2 linked regions of the Homo sapiens genome follow. The protein of the gene in region 1 purifies or fractionates together with the protein of each later gene. This does not show direct contact. Each region holds a gene or a part of one and is shown on either strand. Other genes may lie near its edges.

Region 1 (3,657 bases):
CAGATATGTTTCACTTCATTATTTATTTTTCTCTCCATATTGCGTTTAGGTAGTACAGGTGTGAATCAGGGTTTTGTTTTTTGTTTTTGTATGTTGAGGAAGTTAATTCTGAATGCTAGGAGTGGCATTGACACATTTCTTTTTTATGTTTCTTCCAGAAATTGTAGTAATTGGCTGCTTTTCACTTGACATGGGAATAAATTTTAGAGCCAGAAGAGCTAGATTGTAAGCTCCCTGAGGGCAAAGCCAATTTTCGTTTTCTTCTGACTTTCTCACAAAACATTTCTCATAGATCCTTAGATGTCACAGGCATTATTACTATTTGTTGAATAAATCACTAATGAGAATCTTGATCATTTGCACATATTCAAATTGTGTGTGAATGGACCAATATATAATAAAATGGAGGGAGAGAAGTGATTGTTAAAAGTTAGACTTGGCTTGCCTTTTCCACACTGGGTTCTCTTTAGGCCAATGGACTAATCATGAGGGTTTATAAATATAATCAGTCAAGGGTTTTTGTATAACTCAGACATTATCTACACAAGGCACTCTGCCCTTTGCTTTCTGCAGTGCTCTCCTGTCCTCTTTTGGAATGGGTTTGGAATTGTTAAGATTGTTAATTAACCATTTCTGGAGGTGGACTACATGTGATTTGGATACCAGACATCAGAAATAGAATGCTAAACTTACTGGAAAAGTATTAGGATTTGGGCCTGTGATGACATTGCTTACTTATAATGATGGATTTCATTACAAAATTGTGGGTTTTTTTTTTTTTTTGGAGATAGAGTCTTGCTCTGTCGCCAGGCTGGAGTACAGTGGCACGATCTTGGCTCACTGCAACCTCCACCTCCCGGGTTCGAGCGATTCTCCTGCCTCAGCCTCCCGAGTAGCTGGAACTACAGGTGTGCACCACCACCACCGCCAGCTAATTTTTGTATTTTTAGTAGAGACGGGTTTTCACCATGTTGGCCAGGATGGTCTCAATCTCTTGACCTTGTGATCTGCCTGCCTTGGCCTCCCAAAGTGCTGGGATTACAGACATGAGCCACCGTGCCCAGGCTGAAAAATTGTTTTTTATCATTACCGTTTCTAATTTGTTAGGCAAAATAATGGAGGTTCACTTTATATCTTCTAGGTCTTTAGTGTTCACTAAAAATAACTGGTAAGATGGTATATAAGTAAGACATGAGAAAGAAAGTTAAATTATTTTACCTTTGTTGGAAATTCCCTTTTGCATGGTGAGAAACCAACGAGTTGGCAAGTTGTTCCTCTTTGACCCAATTTCTTAAAAGCCAAGTTGCAACATATATTATATAATACAATGAAGTGTTTAGTTCTACCTTATAATGGTTTTGATGTGTTAAGTTCTGCTAAGCAAGCTTTGGTTTGCAGAAATAGAAATATAGACTTAGCTCTTTGTTTCAGCTACAGTGGTATTTGAAATATATTAAATGTTAACATAACCTTGTGAATTTGGGACTCGTGGAGAAATTAATTTTTTAAAATATTTTAAGGATGTTTGTGGGAAAACAGCTGAAATCTGAATAAAGCCTGTAATTTAGTTAGTAGTGTGGTACCAATGTTAATTTCTTAGCTTTGGTAATTCTGCTCTGTGAATGTAAGATGTTAACATTAGGGGGAAGCTGGGTGAAGGGTGTACTTGCACAGTTTGTATTGTTTTTGCAAGTCTTCTATAAATCTGAAATTTTTTCAAAATACAGAATTTTAAAGCACCCTTTGCAAAGAGTGGTAATATGTTTGTTTAGCAGTTAAGTTTATTTTTTCTTTTTCAGATAACTATAGTCATAGCATTTTACATTTTCAAGGTGCTTTCGCTAGATTGAAAATTGATAATGAAGAAAATACTTCAAATTTAAATCAGTGAGCATGAAAGAAATATGCTAAGAAATTACTATAACATTCTTAGTGTTCTGTATATGTAAAGAAGAATTGCTTGAGCATAATAAATTGTTCCGATCTAGAAAATTATAGGTTTTAGTCTCTCATGTTTTCAAAGGGTTATTTTTACAGATTTTAAGAAAAGAATCTATTGACATGTAGTGATATATGGATAAGTGTGTATATAATTTTGGTAATTCAAAATGAATTTTCTTTAATGAACAAGTAATTTGAATTATGTCTTCAGATTATATAAATTCTTTATAAATGAAGCATAGCCTAGCCTTTAGATTTGGTAAAAGTTGGTTTCAGAATTTAAGCAATTCTGTGACAATTCTAGAAAAGTCAATACCTTTATTTAAATTTTTCATAATTCTCTAAGGATTGTAATATATTCTAGGAATTGTGAGGCTGTATACAGTAGAGGAACTATGTATTAGATTAAATATTGTTTTCTTTCAATTTTTGTTTTAGATTTCATTAAGTTTCTAGAATGAGCATGTATTATCTAAATATCCCAAGGCTTAGTTTTCATTTAGGGAATCAGGCATTTTAATGAGTTTTATGCTTTTCAACAGTGAAACATTTTTCTTAGGGGTTATGTCCACCATGCATTTTACTTTAGTTCTGAGATTCTTCTCTTTGAAAACCAACTTTCCTATAGTTTCACTTTTTAGTGTGCTTACTATCTTTATGAATATAACATGCATGTTAATAGGCTTATTTTATAAGCGAGGGAAGGTTTAATTATTAATGTCTTTCCAACTCACAAACATTCTAAAAAGGTACAAAATAATGTAAATCTTGCATTATAAGAGGATGTTGCTTTTTTGCTTCCTAAAATACCGCGGTGGTTTTCAGTTTAGTCATCAGAAAGCCTGAGTTGACACTGTAGCTCTGAAAAACCCAGCAGAGAAAAATAAGTTGGGCTGCCTTGGGTGGAGAGGAGGAAAGATTTAGTCACCAAGCTTCCTAGTCTGTAGTGCCCCCATCATTGGTGAGGAGGCTGGCAAGGCCAGGGCATAATTAAGGGTCTGGGAGTATGTGAGAGAAAAAGACAAAAACAGGATGAGAAGAGAAGTGTTGTGTACTCAGGTGTGGGATGTGACAAGCTCTAGAGATCTTAGCAAGGGAGGGTCACTCCCCTTGTGCCCTCTTAGCTATGAAGGAGAAACACATGGAAAGTTGAAGGAGGGCCATGAAGAGTGGCAGTTGTGCAGGTAGATCACAGTGACATCCTGCCTCAGTGACGTTAGGTGGCTCTGGGGAGGGCCTGGGAAACTGCACCAGTGTTGATGGTGAGCTAGGTTTTAATCTGTGCTTCTCAAAACCTGCTGTCCACGGGGAGCATCTGGAGGCCTCCTTTCAAAGGCTGCTTCCTGGGGCCCAGCTGTGGTGATTCTGATGTCCACGACAGAGGTCCCCCAGCATCCCTGGGTGGTCAGGGTTTGTAGCCACAGTTGAAGAAACGTTGTCCTGAAAGAGGAGGTTTTTGTTTTGTTTTGTTTTGTTTTGTTTTGTTTTTTTTGAGACAAAGTCTCGCTCTTGTCCCCCAGGCTAGAGTGCAACTGAGTGATATTGGCTCACTACAACCTCTGCCTCCCGGGTTCAAGCGATTCTCCTGCCTCAGCCTCCCGAGTGGCTGGAATTACAGGTGCCTGCCACCACGCCTGGCTAATTTTTGTATTTTTAGTAGAGACGGGGTTTCACCATGTTGGCCATGGCTGGTCTTGAACTCCTGACCTCAGGTGA
Region 2 (3,657 bases), on another chromosome or scaffold:
AGGAGATATTGGGTTAGACAGAATGGATTTATAAACAGGGAGAATAGTAGAGAATATTAAATTGCCCAGATAGTAAGATCTACCAGAATGTGGAGTTTTGTCTGTATCTTAAGTGCCTAGCACATTATCTGGCATGCTCTACTCCATTTCACTGACTGAATCCAATATGCCTCTATTGTCCATTCAATGGCCTACTAAACTTGGTAGATGGCATCTATTGCAATGGAGAGACAATGTAACTATCCCCAGTAGTCAGGCAACAAATTATATAAATCTTTTTAATATCTTTACTTATTACACTGAAATGAGCACTATATATATATATACATACACACTACTCAGTGAAAAAAAAGGAAAACACTAATATATATGACTGGCAGAAAAAAACCTAGCGAGTCTAGTATGACTGTTAGTAATTGAGATGTTTTCCTCAAGTGTATGAACTGTAAGTTTACAAAGAATGTTTTTGAAGACAAATTGTTAACTGAGAGTCACAAAAGTAGAAAAGTCAATCTGTCAGTCATCCTATTACCTCAAATATTTCCTTGAACAACTCCAATGCTAAAACAGAACAGTTTTCTGATCCGTCCAAAGGTTGGCTTAACCAGCGCAGTAGAGCCACAGTAGGTTCTAAACATTTAGTATGGCTTCCCAGAGTGGCGCTGCCAGGTGGAGACTGTTCAAACATCATCTGAGTGAGCATATGGCGCAGCTGAGTCACTGAACAGAAGGCAAGAAGTAATTCTAAAACCTGTGCAATATAAAGTGTTCATTAAACATCAATTTCACAGAACTTTAATATACAAAGCAAGTGTATGATGAAGCTGAAAATGCTACATATTTTAAAGAAAATATTCTAAAACAAAACTTAAGTTTTTTCTTTCAATATTATTTTTCAAATGTGTGAATAGGTTCTAGAAGATTATAAAATAAACTTATTAATGGTGGTTACTCCTGATAAGCAGGACTGTGAGAACCTCAGAGGGAAGGTCAACTTCAGCCAACGTTAAACTCCTCCCACTCCTTCCATAGTACTTAAATTATTTTTAAACAGAAACCTGTTTTGTTTATAAATGACCAAAAAAACCCTAAAAAATAAAATTAGAATTAGTAATACTTGTTATAATCCTAAAATTCAATAACCGCTATAAAGGATACTGTAGCATAGAATATAAAACCTTCAGGATGGTTATTTCCACACTGTTTGCATACGGTTGGCATTATGACCCTTAGCTCTCCTACTGTACCCCATTTTTCCTCTACTTTATAAACTGGGCCTTATACCATAACATCCCCCATCAACCAGTTTATTAGATGTTAAGATAAATTCCACCTCATTTCACATACTACCAACTTATCACTAAAAAAAAAAAAATTTCTTAAGATCTCCTTGTCTCTCTATTTCCAACTTTTTAAAAGTCTGTTTCTTACAAATGATATATAATTGGGATTTGTGTTTTAATCAACTTGATAGTATCTGAATTTAAAAGAATCCAGTCCATTAGCATTTACTATAACAAATGATAATCTTTAATAAACTGTAGTACAGTCATGTGTCACTTAGTGATGCATATGTTGCTTAATGCATCATTAATTCCGTTGTGTGAACATCGTAAGAGTGTACTTACACAAACCTAGATGGTAGAGCCTACTACGTCCCTTTATTGCCCGTGGGCTACAAAACTGTACAGAATATTACTGTACTAAATACTGTAGGCAACTATAACACAATTGTAAGTACTTGTGTATCTAAACATAGAAAAATACAGTATAAAAGATCAAAAACGGTACACCTGTATAGGACACTTACCATAAACAAAACATGCAGGACTGGAAGTTGCTCTGGGTGAGTTAATGACTGAGTAGTGAGTGAATGTAAAGGCCTAGGACATTACTGTATATTGCTGTATATTTCATAAAGACTGTATGCTTAAGCTACACTATTTTTTAAAATTTCTCTAATAAATTAACCTTAGCTTAGCAGAACTTTTTAACTTTATAAACCTATCCATTTTTAAAGTTTTTGACTCTTTTGTAGTAAGAGAAACACACTGTACAGCTATACAAAAATACTTTATTTACATCTGTAGTCTATCAGTTTTTTCTATTTTTAAAATGTAGGCTTTTTCTTTTTAAACTTTTTTTGTTAAAAACAAAGACACAAACACAGACATTAGCCCAGGTCTACACAGGGCCAGGGTAATCAACACCACTTCCACCTCCACATGTTGTCCCACTGGAAGGTCTTCAGGGGCAGTAACACACAGGGAGCTGTCATCTCTAATAACAACAATACCTTCTTCTGGAATACCTCCTGAAAGACCTGCCTGGCTGTTTTACAGTTAACTTTTTTATAAGTAGAAGTACACTCTAAAATAACAAAGAATAAGTGGTAACACGTTTATCAAAATACTATGTACTGTATACAATCTTAATATGTGTTATAGTTTTATACAGCTGGCAGCTCAGTAGGTTTGTTTACACCAGCATCACCACAAACACATGTGATGCATTGCACCACCATGTTAGAATGGCCATAATGTCATAGGCAATAAGAAGTCTGTGTCTGTCATTGACTAAAATGTCATTATGTAATGCATGACTATATTTATTTTTGAATAGGTAATACATTCACATGGTTCAAAAGACAAACCCTGTAGGCAAGCAATGTTACCAATTGTTTGTGTATCTTACCATATGTCCGTTATAAACATAGAAGCAGATAGCTTTCCATGTACATTAGTTTTCTTTTAATGTACACATATAAAAGTAAAAAAACTAATTACTAGTGCAGAGCTAGATGACTTTCCCAAAATGAACATATTCCACTGTTAATGGCATTTGGGTTATCATTGTTAGCTATTAGGAGCAGTACTACATTTTGTACACATGTAAACAATTCTTTGGGATAAATACCTATAAGTGAGATTTCTGGGTCGTAGTTTATACATATGCCCAGTATTAATAGATACCAGTTTTCATAATTGGTTGTTCTGTAAGTACTAAATGAGAGTTAAAGTATGTTTGCTATTTTCCTTATTTTTCATTTTAATCAACTGGTGGGTGTCAGATGGTATGATACTACCATTTAAATCTGCATTTCCCTTAAGATTGATAAAGTGGTAAATCACTTCATGTTTATTGACCAATTCAACTTTTTTGCTCAAGTATCTGTTCGGCTCTGTGTTTTTTCGGATATATACATACAATGTAGAAAAATAATATATTTTGGATAAGAGTCCTTTGTTAGATATATGCATTGTAAATATCTATTCCCATTCTTTGACTTTTCATTCTTTTATTAGTGGTCTTTTCATAAATAGAAACTTAATTTTAATGTAGCCCAACTTATCGACTTTCTTACTGTATAGTTAGTGCTTTTGTTTCCTGTTTAAGAAAATCATTGTCTACCCCAAGGCCATGAAGATACTCTTTAGGTGTTTTTTCTAAAACGTTCCTTATTTTTACTCTTCACATTTAAATCTACAACCTGTCTTATACTGATTTTTGCATTTGGTATGAGGAAGGGGGTCAAATTTCAGTTTTTCCCCATATGTATATTCAATTGACCCAGCGTCATTTATTGAAATGACCATACTTTTAAGACTCTACTGTTGTCAATCTGAAGACCATATGCTGTGGGTTTGTTTCTGCTCC

The links. The genes of interacting proteins can lie anywhere in the genome.
Region 2: the proteins of PTPRM (region 1) and CIP2A purify together in Homo sapiens (affinity purification with mass spectrometry, with the first as the bait; one large-scale study listed by BioGRID). This does not show direct contact.

Annotation. Positions count from the first base shown.
Region 1 is NC_000018.10:7,570,174-7,573,830, forward strand, and holds part of PTPRM (receptor-type tyrosine-protein phosphatase mu isoform 1 precursor), read left to right. Parts: intron 1-3,657. UniProt on the Homo sapiens protein: Receptor protein-tyrosine phosphatase that mediates homotypic cell-cell interactions and plays a role in adipogenic differentiation via modulation of p120 catenin/CTNND1 phosphorylation.
Region 2 is NC_000003.12:108,568,857-108,572,513, forward strand, and holds part of CIP2A (protein CIP2A), read right to left. Parts: intron 752-3,657; coding exon 533-751; intron 1-532.